Linked DNA regions of Homo sapiens: region 2 is linked to region 1. The links come from fine-mapping of genetic effects on gene expression. A gene starts in region 1. The other region holds a variant in brackets. All regions are shown on one strand. Distances are between the middles of the regions.

The links. PIP is the estimated chance that this variant, and not a neighbour inherited with it, causes the effect.
Region 2: its variant is fine-mapped to the expression of DNAJC15 in subcutaneous fat (GTEx, PIP above 0.99).

What each region holds. Positions count from the first base shown.
Region 1 is chr13:43,017,102-43,027,886 of GRCh38, reverse strand. It overlaps DNAJC15 (DnaJ heat shock protein family (Hsp40) member C15), which reads right to left and starts at 4,301. Exons shown (of 6, transcript NM_013238.3): 1 at 4,153-4,301. The coding sequence starts at 4,260. RefSeq lists enhancers at 3,803-3,852, 4,363-4,412, 4,423-4,482.
Region 2 is chr13:42,979,451-42,989,573 of GRCh38, reverse strand. All of the region lies in intron 1 of EPSTI1 (epithelial stromal interaction 1), which reads left to right. Among named protein-coding and RNA genes, the nearest start is that of EPSTI1, 7.7 kb to the left of the region's middle. RefSeq lists an enhancer at 3,468-3,969. The variant T/C (reference allele first, on the strand shown) is at 3,942.

The DNA.
Region 1 (10,785 bases):
TCAGGAGTTTGAGACCAGCCTGGCTGACATGGGGAAACCCTATCTCTACTGAAAATACAAAAATTAGCTGGGCGTGGTGGCAGGCGCCTGTGGTCCCAGCTACTTGGGAGGCTGAGGCAGGAGACTCAGGTGAACCTGTGAGGCAGAGGCTGCAGTGAGCCGAGATCCCGCCATTGCATTCCAGCCTGGGCAACAGAGCAAGACTCCATCTCAAAAAAAAAAAAGTTAAAAATATGGGTATACAGTACATAATCCATGTGATTACCAATGTAAGCTTCAAAGTATTGTTAAAACATGTTTTAAATCATGTTATCATTGCAAAATAGTAAAAGTACTGTCTTATTTTTGGAAATGAATAAATGCCTGAAAATTAGTTTGACAGGTTTTAGTTTTCACGTATCAGGATTGTTTATAATGAAACATATATGTGTCTAGTTTTTTTTACATGTTACACTATCCTAATAATAACAAGAGTTGTGGGGGTGGGAGGAGGGAGAGCATCAGGAAGAATAGCTAATGCATGCTGGGCTTAATACCTAGGTGATGAGACAATCTGTGCAGCAAACCACCACGGCACACATTTACCTGTGTAACAAACCTGCACATCTAGCACATGTACCCCGGAACTTAAAATAAAAATTGAAGAAAAATAAAAGTAAGAGTTACAGTTTTCAGGAAAGTAATGGAAACTAAATGACTACCGTTTCATACAAACTGAGTTTTGTTCAAACTGCTTTAAAATTTGATAATAATCTCTTAAAGTTTCTTTTCTACTTTTCCATGAGAAACAGCTTTGCTAGTGCAAAGTTTGATTATGACTTCTATTAAACCATTAATTGTAAAATGCTAACTTTATTCAAGATGCTACATATTTTGCCTATTTTTAAAAATTATTTTAATCTCCTAAGCAGGCTAATGAACATTAGTTCTTAGTTTCAAAAGAGAAGCTTACCTAAGAAAAAGTTATTTAACAAATATGACAAGATATATTTATTTCTTTTTGATTTTTCTTTTAGAAAGACAGGGGTCTCACTATGTTGCCCACCCTGGGTCTTGAACCCCTGGGCTCAAGTAATTCTCCCACCTGACCTTCCAAATTGCTAGAATTACAGGCATGAGCCACCATGTCCAGCCCAACAAGATATATTTCATAAACCTTAAAATGAATTACATTTTTAAAATACAGTGTGAAAGTTTTTCTTTAACTCATTGACAAACATTATTTTCTATTTTCCATAAGATTTCCAAATATGCCCTACACCTAGGCCATTTTTTTTTCTTTCCTAATATTTACCTTTTGTCAGCTTCTCATTGCTTTCAGTACTTCCAAGTTCCCTAAAGTTATTATCAACAATCTTCTGCCTCATTATTGGTCATTGCCTGGACCAACAACTCCCAAAAGAAGCAGAACAACCCCTTAGGGACATTCTGAAAGTACGTGAGGCCCTGTTTGGTTGCACAATAATTTGAATAGAAGGGAGGGTATTTGGTGGATGGGGGACCATTGATCGTAGAAGTCCTAAAATATATGAGACAAGCCTGTGTAACAAAAAACTGTTTGCATCCCTCAATTTTAAAAGATTAAGTAGGTGAAAAGTTTATGATAATCTTAGTCCAGAACTTCATTATATATAAATATATCATTATTACACTGTTTTAGTACAGACTGAATCTTCCATAAGTGCAAGTGCCATGTAAATTGAGGGAGATTCCACTGTTTTGTTCAAGTTTTTACCAGAAATTGTTCACCATTTAGGAGAAATAAGTTTGTAAAGAACAATGGTCCTTCTGCTACTTGAAAAGCCAATATAATACATTTGATAAACAATTTGCATTGGTAGCTGTCACATACACAGTGATTCTACAAATTGGTGTAATATGACAGCAACTAATAATTACTTCATTATGTTTTCTAATGTAGTAATGTCTAAGTATTTACATATTTAAATTGTAGACATGTTAACATGTTATTTTCTTTTTTTTGAGACAAAGTCTCGCTCTGTCGCCCAGGCTGGAGTGCAGTGGCATGATCTCCGCTCACTGCAACCTCTGCCCCCTGGGTTCAAGCAATTCTTCTGCCTCAGCCTCCCTACTAGCTGGAATTACAGACTTGTGCTACCATGCCCAGCTAATTTTTGTATTTTTAGTAGAGACACGGTTTTGCCCTGTTGGCCAGGCTGGTCTCGAACCCCTGACTCAAGTGATCCACCCACCTCAGCCTCCCAAATTGCTGGGATTATAGGAGCGAGACACCGCTCGCAGCCTGTAGACATGTTATTGTCTAATAAAATATTTCACCTTTATGTCTCAATTAAAGCATTATATTGATTATTAAAAGTTATGTTTACAGGTAGATTTTATTGTCTATGAATCTGACTTCAGGATTTCAGGATATTACAGGACACAGACAGTTTGAGAATCACTGGCCTACACTTTAGCCTTCAAGTACCTGGACTACTAAAGATGCTTCCTATGTGGTACTCTGGATTCTGTAAACTCTCTCCTCTTCCAAGTAAAAATACCTACACATGTAAAAGTCACCAATATTAGTTCTATCTTCCAATTACCACAGCTCCCAACTACCTTGAAAGCCTGATACTCGGATTTTTACGACTCTCCACAAAAGGATTACTTCTGCCTGATCTTGTTCAGCTGTATCATACACTGAATACTATATCCAGAAATCCTTATTTCTAAGGAGTCAGCAAGTCATAAGGGAAAAAGTGTAGCATTTGGAATCGTAGATCTGCCACTTACCAGGGATGATCCTGGACCAGTTACTTAAAACTTTCTAAATCTCTACTGCCTCATTTTTTTTTCTTTGTTGGAGACAGGGTCTAGCTCTGTCTCTCAGGCTGGAGTGCAGTGGCGAAATCATAGCTCACTATAACCTCAACTCCTGGGCTCAAGTGATTCTCCCGACCCAGCCTCCCAAGCAGCTAGGACTACAGGCTCACACCACCACACCCAGCTAATTTTTTTTTTTTTTTTTTAGCAGAGATGGGGTCTCCTGTGTTGCCCAGGCTGTCCTCCAAACTCATGGCCTCAAGTGATCCTCCTGCCTGGGCTTCCTAAAGCGCTGGGATTACAAGCCTAAACCACCACTTGGGCAATATTTCATATTGAATGTTGAAAATTACCATGCAACTGTGCATATATCAGGTTAAAGAAAATACATGGTTAAAATCAAACCCACCTGTTTCTCTTCAGTTGTTTAATATGGCTACAAAAAACTTAAAAATATGCCGGACGCGGTGGCTCACGCCTGTAATCCCAGCACTTTGGGAGGCCGAGGCGGGCGGATCACGAGGTAAGCAGATCGAGACCATCCTGGCTAACACGGTGAAACCCCCGTCTCTACTAAAAATACAAAAAATTAGCCGGGAGTGGTGGCAGGCGCCTGTAGTCCCAGCTACTTGGGAGGCTGAGGCAGGAGAATGGCCTGAAACCGGGAGGCGGAGCTTGCAGTGAGCCGAGATCGCGCCACTGCACTCCAGCCTGGGCGACAGAGCGAGACTCCGTCTCAAAAAAAAAAAAAAAAAAAAAAAACGTAAAAATACGTATGTGGCTCACAATATGCTTCTGTTGGACAGTTTTCTGTTAGACCCTTCCTTTTTCCAGCTCTACAGTTCATCCTGAATACACCACTTGGAGTTTCCAACTGGGCCCTGTTTCTGTGCCGGAGACTTTGGAGACAGTAGTCCTGGTACCCGAAACACTTTTTCCCCTTCTCCTTGCTGAATGGACTGTTTTTATTCATTCAGATCTTAATTTTTAACTACAGCTTTCTCCAAGAAGCGTCCCTGATCCCACCACGTCCCCTGCAAGACGTTTTTAGGGCCTCCTATGAGATAGGAAAATCCACATACAGCACTTATTTTACTGTATTTGCAATTGCCTGTTTTCTGGTTTGTGTCCCAGACAAGACTGGAAGCTCCTTGAGGAGACAGATCCTCAGAACTGCTCCGTCTTCCACGCCCAGGCGTCAAAGCCCAGCACAAAGCGGTCTCTCCACTGAACAAGTGAGCGCTAGGGCACAGACCGTGAGCGAATGCGGGGGAGTACAAAGGTTCAAGGGTGAGGCGGTAGAGGGGGCTGAAGCAGAAACTACAAGGGAGCCAGAGAGGGGTGGGGGCCGCTGGCAGGACTCACCAGTCTCTGCTGGTCGACGTCGGCGTCTGGCCGTTTGGCCGAGGGCTGCAAGTACTCAGCGTAGCGCAAACTCTCGCCAACTGGAGCGATGACACCACGGGCAGCCATGGCAAGGCGGCCCGGAGACTCAAGGCGCCGCGGCAGTGACTACGAGGCGGCCGTAGGGACAAACTAGTTAGCGCGGTTTCTTCTCGCAGATCCAGTGGACTCTGCGCTCGTTGTGCTATTAAAGGCGAGGTTCCCGGAAGATACCCTTCTCACCCGAGCTGGGTAACGTGTCCCGTGCAAGCACGGGGTCACACTCCGAAAGGAGCCAAGGGCACTGGGACGTTCTTGAATCACACTCACAGGCGCAAAGCCAACGCGGACCCTCAGGGAGCTTTATATACTTGGGCCTGGTCCCTCCCCAGGCCGCCGTAAGGGACTGGGCTTAAGCCCTGCGAACTGATGTTGGTCGAATCAGATGACTGCCCAGTAAGCTCGGAGTCTAGCTGTAGTGCCTGAGGGTGGGCTTGCCTGAGCTTTCCTGACCCCCTTCCGGGCAGCCTTTCTTCCCACTCTCAACTTCTGTTCGCACTTCTGTTTAATGCCACAGTTCTACCACCCCGGGAGAGAAATTAAAGAGGCAATTTGCTTACTCCACCCCCAAGTAAATGGCTGTATTTAAGGTGAAATTACACAGAAGAAAGTTGTGGCCGGGTGCGGTGGCTCACGCTGTAATCCCAGCACTTTGGGAGACCGAGGCGGGTGGATCACACCAGCTTGGCCGACATGGTGAAACCTCGTCTCTACTAAAAATACAAAGATTAGCTGGGTGTGGTGGTGCGTCCCTGTAATCCCAGCTACTCAGGAGCCTGAGGCAGGGGAAAAAAAGTTGTGAGCAAGTAGGTAAATCTTACTCTCCCTCAAATGAGTTTGTGCTGATTTGTATATATAAAAGCCCATTTTATTATTAAGCTTTTTTTTTTTTTTGAGATGGAGTCTCGCTCTGTTGCCCAGGCTGAGTGCAGTGGCGCAATCTCTGGCTCACTGCACCCTCTGCCTCCCGAGTACCTGGGATTAAAGGCACGTGCCACCACACCTGGCTAATTTGTGTATTTTTAGTAGAGACGAGGTTTCACCATGTTGGCCAGGCTGGTCTCAAACTCCTGACCTCAGGTGATCCGCCCGCTTCAGCCTCCCAAAGTGCTGAGATTACAGGCGTGAGTCACCGCGCCTGGCCTCCATCAAGTTTTTAGAGCAAAAATTAACCAGCAGTTGAAGCGTATGGTGTTTTCCAACTTCTGTACCAACGTGGCAGCTCTTTGGCTCCTTATACCCTTTGCAAAATCAGCTGACAGGAAGAAAAAGCTTTATTTTTTTTCTATTCCTGAATTTAAAGTTTTGAGGGTCTATTAATTTGTTCACTTAGTTAATATTATTAGCATGTCTAAGAAGTTAGGTCCTAGAAATTTACAATCTTGTAGGGAAGATAACACTGACACAGAATAATAGTACATACCAGAACATGAGCACATGCATTGCATAGCAGTATAAAGAGAACTGGACTGGGAATTAAACCGCCATTGCAAAATTACAACTGAGAAAGAGATCTGACCTAATCAACACCATCTTGCTTCTAACCTCCAAGCTGTCTTGTACATTCCTGGCCGTAGGCCAAACTAACTTTGGGAGGAATGTAATTCATAGTTTATAGTTTGAAACAAAGATGATAAAAGCCCTTTCCCAAAACAAACCTCCTTCTTGCCTGGGGACTAGACTGCCTTTGTAGGACTAACAAATTAGCCACAAGATCAGAAATTATGACTTAGGAGTCATGCAGCTGGAGGCTACAAGATTCTGACCCTCCCCAAATTGCTGCTGGAGCTAACATCACTATTGTAAAAACTACCACCAGTGCTTGAGATATTTTGCAGACCCCGCACTTGATGAATCAGCTGGCATCACCCAGATCGATAAACTGGCTCATCTGATCTCGTGGCCCCCACCCAGGAACTGATAACGCAAGACAACTTGGACTCCCTGTGATTTCATCTTTGACCTGACCAATCAGCACTCCCAGCTCACTGGCTTCCCCCTACTCACCGAGTTGTCCTTAAAAATTCTGATCCCCAGCTGGGCGCGGTGGCTCATGCCTGTAATCCCAGCACTTTGGGAGGCCGAAGGTGGGTGCATCATGAGGTCAAGAGAGTGAGACCATCCTGGCCAACATGGTGAAATCCCATCTCTACTAAAAATACAAAAATTAGCTGGGCGTGGTGGGTGCCTGTAGTCCCAGCTACTCGGGAGGCTGAGGCAGGAGAATCGCTTGAACCTGGGAGGCAGAGGTTGCAGTGAGCAGAGATCGCGCCACTGCACTCCAGCCTGAGGACAGAGTGAGACTCCGTCTCAAAAAAATAATAATAATAAATAAATAAATAAAAAATTCTGATCCCTGAATGCTCTGGGAGACTGATTTGAGTAATAATGAAACTCCAGTCTCCTGCACAGTCAGCTCTGCATGAATTACTCTTTCTCTATTGCAATTACCCCGTCTTTATAAATTTGGCTCTGTCTAGACAGCCAGCAAAGTAAACCCATTGGGTGGTTACAGGAATAAGGAAGACATCTGAGTTCTAGTGTACCTCCATTATTTTCTGGGCTTGTATAACTGAACATATCCATTAACCTCTCCAAATTACCTGTAAAAGGAGAATAACATTTGTCCAACATTCTGACTCAGGGAAGTTGTGCAAACAAATATAAACCTCAAAGAACCAATCCTTCAAGATGGATCCCAAGTGGCTAACTAGGACTAACTTAAAATAGAGCCAAACCTTCCTTTTACACTGAAATCTGTGGCTCTCAGGTTTGCAAACTGTTTATTGGGATAGTCTCTCTCCTCTAAATTCCTTTTCAGAGAACTTTTCATTTACATAGGGATAAAAAAGAAAACGACAGGATATGGAAGCAACTTGTATAATGCACTTATGAAAAGAATTACAACCATAGTGCTCTTGGACTTTACAGGAGGGAATGGCCACTTTTAACAGGGGTCATCAGAGAGGTTTAGTGAAGGCTTAGCCATTGAGATGAGGTAAAGAATGGGTAACATTTCTTTAGATGGAAGAGAGGAAATGCCAGAAATTTCAACTGGAAACAAATGGAAGGAAATGAAAAACACTGATTTATAGGACTGGGTAAAAAATATTCCAGGACTCTTCACAGAAATAATCTCATTACAGAAATTAATTTTTGTTAAACGGATCCACGACTATGAAGGACACTAGTAAACTAAGCAAATGAATTGGATCAAGGCCTACAGGTCATTCTTCCATTCATTTATTTATTCAGTAAATACTTATTGAGTATCTGTTAGATATGAAGAACTATGCTAGGCATTGGACCTATACAGTCAAACATACAAATAAGGTCTCTGATTCCTTGGAGTTTGGAGTATTCTAGTGGCTGAGCCCTAGCAGTAACAGGCTGCTGGCCTGAAACAAATGAACAATTAGAGCAAGACCCAGCTTAGCTTCAGCTCCTGTTAGGGCAGCTACTGCCCCTGCTCAGGAACTGGAGAGAAGCTTTCAGAGCAGAAGCCAGGAAAAGGGGGAATAGAAGAAGTGGGAAGGGGAGAATATAGCAAGGTGGAGGTGAGGTGGACTCAGCAGGGTTGCATGTCAGCTCAGACCCCAAACTATTGAGATCAGATAGCTGGCTGCTTGTAGACTCGACTGACCTCATTCCACTGCTGCCTCAGGCATCCGCTCTTGCAGATGTAGCCAATTTTAAAGAAAAATCTCATCCACAAAGATTACTTAGTTCCCAGCCTTTGGTTCTTTGGTAAATTCACCCTCCTCAGCAAAGAAAGGATGGAAAAAAGGGCCATGAAGTCCTTTCCTCTCCCCCACAAGGATCTCTTCCTGATTTAGTTAAACTCAATTTTCTAGCTTCTTGAGAACAAAGAAAAATATTTTTGTGAAACCCAAAAGGGAGGCCACATTAAATTTTCATTGGCCTACTTTTATTAGTTACGCCACTTCAAAGACAGATTACATTATGTTCAATAGACTTTGTAAAAGAAAGGCAGATTGCATTGGTAGTATGTCTTCGAAACATCTCAGTGGAAAATGTTCTAAAAATTTATTGTTTGAAAGGAATTTTAACAAAGACAATTGACCTCTCTGTGCCTCAGTTTCCTCATTAGTAAAGTAGGTGATAATAATAGCACCTCTCTTGTAGGGATTAAATGAGTTCACTTTTGAAAAGCTCCTAGAACAGTGCTTGATACTTAGTAACTTCTACAAAATTGTTAGTTACTATTTTCTTTATGTTACCTCTTTCACCGATTTATTTCCTTGTGTATTTTCTCTCACTAGCTCTGCCTCCTTCCCCCAGCAGTTGTGTTGATCCCCAACCAATTGTCTTGTCTTTGAAATTACAAAATCTGACTAACATCGCATAGTGATAAAATATAATTGTGGGAGAGGAAATAGTTGTTTTCATGAAAATGAAATTAAATGCCTTGGAAATATTTGATAAAACAGGTTATTTTTAAAAAGCTGTTGAATGGTGAGCATGGGAAGAGAATCACAAACACTGACTATGATTCTGTACTGTTTGCTTTTAAAATGTCTTGCTCCACCTTCATTTTAAACAAACTCAAATTAGGAATCATAGAGGATGGATTACCAGTGTGGAAGAAATCCAAGGCAGAACTGAACCAGAGGACCCACATCCAAATAAAAGGCCTTGGCCCTGCAGCCCTGCGGATGTACATAGAGTACACATACAGTGTGTCTGTTGTGACACTAAAATTTCATGTGGGTAGAGGGAGTGTATTAGAAGAAAAGTCAAAAAAAAAACTTTTGGGTGGAGATAATGAAGAAAAAAAAGGTTGAGAAACAGTAATTTATATATGTTGTAAAAAAAAAAATGGTTAAAGTGTCCAGGCACGGTGGCTCACGCCTGTAATCTCAGCACTTTGGGAGGCTGAGGAAGGCGGATCATCTGAGGTCAGGGGTTTGAGACCAGCCTGGCCAACATGACGAAACCCCATCTCTACTAAAAATACAAAAATTACTGGCCGGGCACGGTGGCTCACACCTGTAATTCCAGCACTTTGGGAGGCCAAGACAGGTGGATCATGAGGTCAGGAGTTCAAGACCAGCCTGGCCAAGACGGTGAAACCCCGTCTCTACTAAAAATACAAAAAATTAGCCGGATGTGGTGGTGGGCGCCTATAATCCCAGATACTCGGGAGGCTGAGGTAGAGAATTGCTTGAACCCGGGAGGTGGAGGTTGCAGTGAGCCGAGATCGCACCACTGCACTCCAGCCTGGGCGACAGAGCAAGACTCCCTCTCATAAAAAAAAAAAAAAAAAAAAAAAAAAAAAAAAATTTGCGGGCGTGGTGGTAGGTGCCTGTAATCCCAGGCTCTCAGGAAGCTGAGTCAGGAGAATTGCTTGAACCTGGGAGGCAGAGGTTGCAGGGGGCTGAGATCGCGCCATTGCACACCAGCCTGGGTGATGAGAGTGAAACTCCATCTCAAAAAAAAAAGGTTAAAATATGTATATTGTTGTGATCTCAGATTTTAATTGGTTTTTCAATTAACCCACCAACCACTAGCCTGGTCTGGTCAGAAAAGAGGCTGGCTTTACTGTATGACAAAGTGCAGTGGGCACCAAAAACGGGCCTGAAATGTTCAAGGAAGGAGTCGGAGAAGCCAGCATCAAGATGACAATGGGGGGATGAAAACAAATTTGCTGAACTGATAAATATGAGGCAGACTTGGGGAAACAATGTGTGAGAAAGCCTTGTATGTAAACAATACTAAAGTCATTCAGTTTTGCTGAAGTTTAAAGTATAAAGAAACGACTGAAGATGGATGAGGGTGGACAGATAACTAGACAAAGGCCAAGTATTGAACAGCTTTATATAATAAGCAGAGGCATTTAGACTTTATCTCATAGGTAAAAGCAGGACATCAAAAAATGTTGAATCTGGCAGTGACATGATCAGATTTACATACTAAGAAGATCATTGTGGCAGCAACGTAGTGATAGGCCAAAGCAAAAGGAGGGAGATCAGCTAAAAAGTTATTGCAATAGTCTAAGAGAGGCTGAGCCCTAAACTAGGGCACTGGCAGAAGATATGGCAAGGAGGAGTATAGTGGCTTTAACTGGATTCTTCTCCACATTTAATCCCTCTTGGCCCCACCTACCATGGACCCACCTATTGACTTTGTCCCCTATTCTCAGGGTGGCCCCTGATTGACCTAAGCCAACTGATGCATCCCATCACTCTAGCCATGATGTCTGTTTCATGGATGGACACTTTGCCCTTCTGGGACATTGGGATTATAGAAAAGGTTTGTTGGTTATTTCTGGGACAGCAGCTTCTCTCTTTAGCTGGACATGAACAGAGAAGTGTGAAGCACTAATTGTAGTTGGCAGTCATTTGACAACCATAAACTAGGGTTAACATTTAATTTATCATCCAAAACGAGGTCACATTTGAAAGAAAGATAGTGCTATAAATAATTATGTTAGGACAATAGATATAACTGAGACTGTCTAGCAAACCAGGATATATGGTCCCTATACCATGAGAAGAGATGGCCTTAGGATGAAGCAAACACCATTGAAAGTCA
Region 2 (10,123 bases), 38 kb after region 1:
AAAAAAGAAAAAAGAGGATAAAGTGCTTTAATAGTACAGTTTCATTTGTCCACTCATAATGTGAATTTATTTATATGGTAAAAGATTTGTCTTGTTTTGTGGGAATCCTTCCATTAATTTCCTCCTGCAGCCCCAGTGTGGGGATTAGGAATATGGGCTCTGATGCTGGGTAGACCTGGGTTCAAGTTCTGATTATGCCATCACTTGCTCTTTGAACAAAATCCTTAGCTACTTTATGCCTCAGTTTCCTCATTACTTAATATAAGACAATACCAACTTCATAGGGTTTTAATTTTTCCACGTGTATATGTGTAAAACATAACTTTATTCCTGGTAAAGTACTATGCTGTCACCCTTAAGTCGAATGTTTGTGCCTTGTTAAAAAAAAACACTGGTTTAAAACACCTACTTGTGGTCGGGCGCAGGGGCTTGTGCCTGTAACCTCAGCACTTTGGAAAGCCAATGTGGGAGGATTGCTTTAGTCCAGGAGTAACATAGGGAGTCCCTTGTCTCTCCAAAAAAAAAAAAAAAAAAAAAAAAATTTAAATTATCTGGGCACGGTGGCACATACCTCTGTCCCAGCTACTCAAGAGGCTGAGGCAGGAGGATAGCTTGAGCTCAGGAGCTCCAAGACTACAGTGAGCTGTGATTGTACCACTGTACTCCAGCCTGGGCAACAGAGTGAGACCCTGTCTCAAATAAATAAATAAATAAATAAATAAACCACCTATTTGCATAGAAAGAAAGTATACTAGTAAAAATCTGTGGCTATCAATATATTAAATTATTCTGAGTACCTCTGATAGACTCTCAGACAAGATTGAGTTCTTTTTTTTTTTTTTTGAGACAGAGTCTCGCTCTGTCGCTCAGGCTGGAGTGCAACAGCGCAATCTCAGCTCACCACAACCTCTGCCTCCCGTGTTCAAGCGACTCCTCTGCCTCAGCCTCCTGAGCAGCTGGTACCACAGGCACATGCCACCATGCCTGGCTAATTTTCGTATTTTTAGTAGAGACGGGGTTTCGCCACATTGGCCAGGCCGGTCTCAAACTCCTGACCTTGTGATCTGCCTGCCTCGGCCTCCCAAAGTGCTGGGATTACAGGCGTGAGCCACCGCGCCTGGCCAAGATTGAGTTCTTGATGGAATTTGGATTTAAGTTATTATAAGTATTTACTAATTCATACTGGCTTTCCCAATTATTTTTACTTGGTGATTTTTGTCTTGTCCTTAAATATCAAAGCTGTCTACACAAATTAAAAGAGAAAAAAGCTTACACAAACTTCTAATCCAAAGTAAACCTTTATCCTTCCTTTTAATATTCTGCTTGTTTGTAAATATTTTACATTATTTATATCACCTCTAGATAAATATAAGACAAAGACATGCATTTACCTAGTTTTATCCAATTCTGGGAAATGGGGTCTTGCCTGTGCTGGTAATATAGGGTTGAATTCACATTCATGTACTTGTCTAACCATACCTGGTCCTTTAGCTTGATGCTGTTTGAAGAAAATAAAAATATATTTTGAAAATGAACCTATAATATGGAATTTTATTTTACAGTTAACTTGAGCTGAATTTGTATGTAAATTATGTTAATCTTAACATTTTTGTGGCCTACTTCGTATTAGTATTGTAGAGACTTCAACATGAGCAATAATAATAATAGCACTTACGTAGTAGCTAGTATGTAAATGCACACTATGTATACTAACTCTTTCAATCCTCATAACCACCATGGAATGAGAGGATCTCTAGCTTAAAAGAACTAATTAAAAACTAGGAACAAATAACTATTCAACACAAAATAAGCCCTTATGAAGCTTACTGTCTAATTGATGGGACAGACATTTATTAATATGTGAACAAATATGTATACTTTAAAGCAGGGGTATCCAATCTTTTGGCTTCCTGGGGCCACATGGGAAGAAGAATCGTCTTGGCCCCACACAAAATACACTAACACTAATCATAGTGGATGAGCTTAAAAAAAAAATCGCAAAAAAACCTCAATGTTTTAAGAAAGTTTATGAATTTGTGTTGGGCCACATTCAAAGCCATCCTGAGCCACCTGGGCTACATGCACCTTGTGGGCCCTGGGCTGGACAAGCTTGCAAGGAAAGCTGGGGTCTCAGCTGGTCTTGGGAGCAGGAAGATCTTTCCTTAGAGGTGACGTTTGAGCTTTGGTCTACAGGATCATTAGGAGTTGTGTGGTTTTTTTTTTCCTGACATCAAATATGTCATTCTAACACCAACTAACTGTGACCCCAACTAGGTGTCCCACAGTTCAATTCTAACACTAACTACTCAGAGTTAGTGTGGACCCCACAAATTAAGGGCTCAGTCCCACAAAACTGCCCCCCACTTCAGACTTCAGACACTAGCTGCAAATGGAGTCTCCAGGCTACCTGTATGTCTACCCACCAGACTACAAAGTTGGGGGTTCCCATGCATCTCCCCTTCCCCAGTTTTGATAATTCATTAGAGTGACTCACAAAACTCGCAGAAATTACTATATTTATGATTACAGGTTTATCATAAAGGATACAACTCAGTCAAGTGGAAGAGATGCGTAAGGCATCTTTTGGGAGATGAAGGGGTAGGTGGTGGGGTGTGAAGAGTTTCCATACTCTAGGTAGATACTTTGATGTGTTCGCCAACCTGGAAGACCCCCAAACCTTATAGTTCAAGAACTTTTATTGAGGCTTTATTACCTAGGCATAATTGATTAAATCAGTGGCCATTGGTGATTAAATCTCCAGCCCCCGCCTCTCCCCAGAAACTGAGATGGGGCTGCAAGTTGTTTTTTTTTTTTTTTTTTTTTTTTTTTGAGATGGAATCTTGCTGTGTCACCCAGGCTGTAGTGCAGTGGCGTGATCTCAGTTCACTGCCACCTCTGCCTCCCAGATTCAAGCAATTCTCCTGCCTCAGCCTCCCAAGTAGCTGGGATTACAGGCATGTGCCACCATGCCTGGCTAATTTTTTTGTATTTTTAGTAGAAACGAGGTTTCACCATATTGGCCAGGCTGGTCTCGAACTCCTGACCTTGTGATCCACCCACCTCGACCTCTCAAAGTACTGGGATTACAGGCGTGAGCCACTGCTCCCGGCCAGGGGTTGAAAGTTTTAACCCCCCAATCGCATAGCTGGTTTTTCTAGCTACCAGTCTCTTAAGCTAGCTGTCTAGGGACCTCACCAACAGACATTAGCATAAAAAAGACACTTAGCACTCTGGGAATCCCAAGGGTTTGGGGAGCTCTGTCCCAGGAACCAGGGACCGTGGCTAAATATTTATTTTTTATTATGTCACAGGAGTTTAAATGGCCTCTGGACAGCCAGAGAAACTTGTTATTCAGATTGTCTTCAGAAGAACTTACAGTGGGGAGCATAGTCAGCTGACGGCCCCAGCTGCCACCCTTTTGGATCCATTACACCTTGCCTGTGAGTGCTGGCTTGTGCTGCACCCATCCCAGCCAATGGCTGAGCATTCCAGGGTGCCAGTGCTGTTGCAGGACTGCCAGGCTTATACGCCCTCTGGGCAGCAACAGACCCATACACTGACAATGGCACTTGCAGCAGAGAAAGAGTTTAATCATCGCGACATTCTCAGTGAGGAAACAGGAGGAATTCTCAAGCCTCAAGTTTGTTTCTTCCATGGGTTCTGGGCAAGGGTTTTTAAGGGGATTCATGGAGGGTGAGGGGCTAGAAAATCTGGGGTTGTCCATTGGACAGCTCAAAGCTGGGCTAGTGAGCAACAACCAGCTACAAGGAAGTGGACCAAAGGGCAAGCTGGCTTAATGATTGCTGCTGCAAGCCCGGTTGGATTTTATTGTTTTGTTTTTCTCTTGCTCAATTTTATACAATTTTCTTGGGATGGTTTTAGTGCTAGCCTATTCCTGGCCCATGCAGAACTCCTCTATTAGGCAACTTTTGCTGGAAGAC[T/C]CCCCATATTCGTGTCCAAGATTTTCTCAGAACTGTATAACACTGAGGATCTTGCTACTCAATCCTCTTTCCTTCGGTCCTTTCATAGAATGAAAGTTGTCAGACTCAAAATGAGGTCACTTGTGTCAAACACGTGGAGCTGGGGCCATGAAGGGAAGATTCTCATGCACATATGCCTCATAACAAGAACTCTCACAAAAGGCTCTGCAAAAACTACAACTTTGCACAAAAGCTACAACCTTACACAAAAAGTACTTCTGCAAGGACATCTGCCTAGCAACTGTCTGTCCAGCCTTGGACTGATTCTACCCTTGTTGATTTTTGTAGCCAAGGATATTTGTCTCAAACAACTTGTATCACCCTCCTTTCCTCACTTTTCCTTAAAAAACCTTTGTCTTCCTTTGCCTTCTTGAATATACCCACTGTATTCCCATTGCAATGCTCAATCCAGAATAAATATGATTTTCTTTGGGAGGGCCTCTCTCACTGTCTTTTATTTAGGTTTTGGCAATAGTAATCAGACCTAGTCTTGTTCTCAAAGCTTTCCTTCCCTACCCCTGCTCCCACTTTCATCCTTCACAAGCATTCCCCCTTATCCATCTCTTGCTTGTCTAACCCCATCTTGGTGTCAGCTTCTGAAGGACTCAAACTAATACAGTCTCTAAAACACCCTACTGCAACCTCAACACTTAGACATCTTATTTATGTCTGTTGTTGGCATGCTGTCTATGCAGATTGGGGAAACCCATTCTTTTTCTCATTTCCTCCTTCAGGGCCCAGAAAAACATTTCCTAATTTCCTTGATCCAACCTTAATGCGTCCCACCAGTTTGTTATGCTTGAGGGAAGGAAATAATCTTTGTAATCCTTCTCTTCATCCCCAAACTCTCAAGGGAGATAAAAGGAGAATAAATGATGGTTTGATAAGAGCAGTTCATCATGGCCAATCCTGATTTTTCTCTTTTCTCCTTAAAAAGCATTGTTAAATTTTGTAAAGTATTTTGTAATTATAAGATGGAATACAAGGTGGGATATACAATAATAAAGTCACTAAGTTATAGTGTTAAATTTTTATCAATATCACTATTTAGTGTCTATTTTCTGCAATCCTGAAGTATGGTTTCTTATGTCTGAGACAGAACTTAAGTCATTTTGACTCACATTATTTGCATCTGAATAAGCCACATAAAATATTCTGAAATGAAGTACAAGTTTTAACAAACTTATTAGAGCATATTAGAACTGTTTTCACTATTTCTTCCTCACTGCAATGTTCAGATGTTCAATTTCCTTCTCTATATGATTATGAGAATAAAATTCTGCTTATAGATGCTAAGTGGCCTGAATGCATCAGTCTAGTATTCTTCCCTGGAGATGGAGAATTGGGTAATGCTGGAGTTCCTTTTAATGTTATGAAATAATAGTACATTGGAAGATAGTATCTGTGATTGATTGTAATGAGTAATCTTGATGGCTCAATATAGATGGTTATTCATTAGGGGATTATTTAAGTCAATCTCTAGCATGCAGAAAGTTTATAAAGCAACAGATAGTATTTAACTCTTCCTAATGACATGTCTCAATGAGCTGGGTAGATGTCTCAATGATTATCAGATACTAATACTACTACTATTTGACTTATTTTTGAAATGAGAAATGTAATGAAGCATTGGAATCCTGTTGTAGCATAAAGTAAATTAGTTATGATCTGGAAAAATTAAACTGGGTACCCCTGAGAGACTAAAACCAAAATAACAATTAGTAGCTCATGTGTTTTCCATGATTAGCCATGTGCTAGACCTTGTGTTAAGTATGTCAGGTACATTATTGAATATTCTTTTCATGATAAGCCATTTGCTACCTTAAAGATGAGGAAACTGAGTCTTGAAAATAAAATGATTTTCCAAGATCTCATGGCTTTTTGAGTGACAGAACCAGTATTCAAACCTATGTCTATCTACCAAATTTTGGATCTTGAATATGATGTACAGATGGAGAATAGATAGAAGGATTGATAGTACAGCTAGCTAAGGTCTTATCATTGTTTTTTTTTTTTTTTTTTTTTTTTTTGAGATGGAGTCTCGCTCTGTTGCCCAGGCTGGAGTACAATGGCGTGGTCTCAGCTCACTGCAAACTCCGCCTCCTGGCTTCAAGCGATTCCCCTGCCTCAGCCTCTCGAGTAGCTGGGATTACAGGTGTCCACCACCATGCCTGGCTAATTTTTGTATTTTTAGTAGAGACGTGGTTTCACCATGTTGGCCAGGCTGGTCTTGAACTGCTGACCTCGTGATCCACCTGCCTTGGCCTCCCAAAGTGCTGAGATTACAGGCATGAGCCACTGCGCCCAGCCCTATCATTGTTTTATATTGACATTAAGAAAAGAGAAGTTCTATAGGCTAAAGAGAGTGGTAATATCGAAGCAGTAATGTGACATTTACAGTTGCAGAGAGGGGAAGATTTCTTTCCTTACCTATCCCTAGGTTCATGGCTGATATCCCTATAAAAAAAGACAGATTAACAAGAGAAAAGCATACCCATTCATTTAACATAAGTTTTATAGGACATAGGAGCATCCAAAAATGAAGATTCAAAGAACCAGGGAAAACTGTGTCTTTTTATGCTTAGGTTTGATGAAGAGTGGATAGTATATAGAAGTATGATTGGTCAAAAAGGAGTATGGTCTAATGACATAAACTGGGGAAGCTTAGCAAGTCCTGTTTGTTCAAATTCTTTGTGTCTCTATGTCTCCACTTCTTTCCTATGGGTTTAGGGAGGAGGGAGGATCCCTCTGAAATGAGGATATTATGACCTACCTTAGAGGAAGGTCAGAGAAATTTTTTATGGCTTGCTTCAGGGGAAAAAGATGGGAGAAGGTCAGAGAGGCTTTCCTCCTTTTGCTGTTTTCTCAAATACCAAGGTGCTATATTTTGGGATAACATGTCGTGAACCCCATCATAGCTTTAAAATGATTTGAATAGAGAAGTACTTTGCAGGAGAAAAGTTTCTCTGGGGATTCCCTTTGTTCTGCTGCTTTTCACAAATGACAGGTGAGCTTGGTAGCCTTGTGTTAGTGTTACTGGCAAGGGGTCCTGATCCGGACCCCAAGAGAAGGTTCTTGGATGTTACACAAGAAATAATTCAGGGCAAGTCTATAGAGCAAAGTGAGAGCAAGTTTATTAAGAAAGTAAAGGAATAAAGAGTGACTACTCCATAGGCAGAGCAGCCCCAAGGCTTGCTGGTTGCCCATTTTTATGGTTATTTCTTAATTTTATGCTAAACAAGGGGTGGGTTATTCATGCTTCCCCTCTTTAGACCATCTAGGGTAACTTCCTGATGTTGCCATGGCATTTGTAAACTGTCATGGTGCTGGTGGGAGTGTAGCTTTGAGGAAAACCAGAGGTCACTCTCGTTGCCATCTTGGTTTTGGTGGGTTTTAGCTGGCTTCTTTACTGAAAACTGTCTTATCAGCAAGGTCTTTAGGACCTGTATCTTGTGCCAACCTCCTATCTCATCCTGTGACTTAGAATGCCTTAACTGTCTGGGAATGCAGCCCAGCAGGTTTTAGCTTTATTTTACCCAGCCCCTATTCAAGGTGGAATCTCTCTGGTTCAAACACCTCTGACATTAGAGCAGTTATCTCACTCTCACTGTGCAACCTCAACAACATAGTAACTTACAGTGATTTTTTTTTCAGACTTCTGATCATAGCCTGCAGTGAGCAATTCATTTGACATCATGACCTAGTACCTGACTGAGTATATATTAGGGTATATATAACTGAAAAAATTTCACAAAACAATTTTCACCTTTATTATATGTGATGTACTCTGACAGTTTCTATTCTTGTTCATTAAAAATAAATCCACTGAATTGATTTCATAACCCATTAGAGGGTTACCTCCTACAGTTTGAAAAGCACAGTTCTATGCATGGCAGAAGAGACAGAGTGGATGAAAAGAAAAAAACATTTTGGTTTGATTAGATCAAATTTACATTCCTGTTTGTGCAGGACGGTAGAAATTATGGTCCTGTTTAGAAGGAATTTCCAACTTTTCTGCACTGGATTCCATTCCTCAGTATGGTACGCATTTGTGGTCTGCCAAGCCTTGGGGAGCAATCATTTTTGTTCAAATACAATATCACCAAAAATGAATGGGAATTGCTAAAAAGTCTTTGGCAGCTGGAACGGTGAAACAATAAATCAACAGGATGATGAAAGCTTGAAAACATATTACTAACAATAATCAGTAGAACCATAGCAGAAATGAGAAAGAAACTTAGTTCAATTACACAGTAAGGTTACTTACTTCAAAGTCAGTAGAGTGCTGTAAGGTTATACATATTAAGGTTAATTGCATCTATTCAGAATGTATTTGAATCTGAAACAAAAGCTTAAGAGGAAAGAAAATAATCAAAGGGAGATGACTGCATTTGAAGGGTCTATTCTATATCAGAGAATCGGCTGATGATGGTTCCTTTGTTCTGTAATGTTTGTAATTCCCTGTCCCCCACCCCCTGCAAATATGAAGACTTAAAAGAAAATCCATTAAAGTCCTGTAGAAAAACTGAAGATGTTTACCATCATTAAAACTCAAGGGCTAGTATTGCCCATTGTTTGTTTTACTATGGTACTAGTGAAAGCAGAAACCTATGCTACCTAATCTTGTAAGAAAAGCTGAGCCCCTGCTATAAGAAATCTTTATATTAAATATTTCTCTATTAAAAATCTTCAGAATATGTTTCTCTGATTATAAAAGTAAAGTCATATCTGCTTGTTATAAAAACTCAAACATTTCAAAAATAATACAGAATGTGAAAGTCCCCTGCAATTCTGACCCTTAGAAATAAACACTTCAAAGAGTTTAGTGTAAAGAAATCTCTAAAGTACAGATTGCACTCTTTGACTCTTTATTCCAAGTAGAAAACCTAGGGCCATGATGCCTAATATGGTTTGGCTGTGTCCCCACCCAAATCTCATCTTGAATTGTAGCTCCCATAATCACCATGTATTGTGGGAGGGACCCATGGGAGGTAATTGAATTATGGGGGCTGTTTTTTCCTGTGCTGTTCTCGAAAGTGAGTAAGTTTTATGAGACCTGATGGTTTTATAAAGGGCAGTTCCTCTGCACGTGCTCTCTTGCCTGCCACCATGTAAGATGTGCCTTTGCTCCTCCTTTGCCTTCCACCATGATTGTGAGGCCTCCCCAGCCATGTGGAACTGTGAGTCCATTAAACCTCTTTTTCTTTATAAATCACCCAGTCTCAAGTATGTCTTTATTAGCAGCATGAGAATGGACTAATACAATGCCCTTTGATTTCTATTGCCAATAGAATGTGACAGATACTCTTTTTCTAATCTTTGTTTTAAACTGTGATTGCACTCCATCATATAGACGGATCTTGTTTTTCACTTTGGCTTATTATTTAGTTGCACAAGGAAACAACCTTTGTTCTCACAGTGGCATCTTGGATAACATGTCTTATCTAGTATTCTTTCTAAAAATGTTTAACCTAATCGAATCATGAGGAAATAATCTTTTCCTTACATCCAGATTGTGAAGCATTCTATAAGAAAAGTTACCTGAACTCTTCAAATATGTCAGTCATGAAAGAAAGAAAAAAAAAGTCAAGGAAATTGTCTGAGCTCATAGGAGTCTACAAACACATGTCAAACCATAGAAATGTGTAATCCATAATTGGATCTAGGATGAGGTAAAGGTAGGGAAGAATATTAAAATGGAAACAATTTGGAAATTTGAATATAGACTATTAGGCAATATTAATGTTAAATTTCTTGGTGTGATAATGGTATTATATTTAAGTAGGAGACTGTTTTTATTTTTAGGAGATACATGCTAAAATATTTAGGGATGATGTGTTATGACCCTGCAGCTTATTTTCATATGGTTAAAAGAGAAAAAGCAAATGTGGGAAAACATTAACAGTTGGTAAATATAAGTAAACAGTATATGGATATTCATTTTAATAATATATAACTTTGCTTGTTAGGCTTAAAATTTCTTTTCTTTTCTTTTTTTTTTTTTTTTTTGAGACGGAGTCTCCCTCTGTCGCCCAGGCTGGAGTCCAGCGGCGCGATATCGGCTCACTGCAAGCTCCGCCGCCTTCCGGGTTCACGCCATTCTCCTGCCTCAGCCTCCTGAGTAGCTGGGACTACAGGCACCC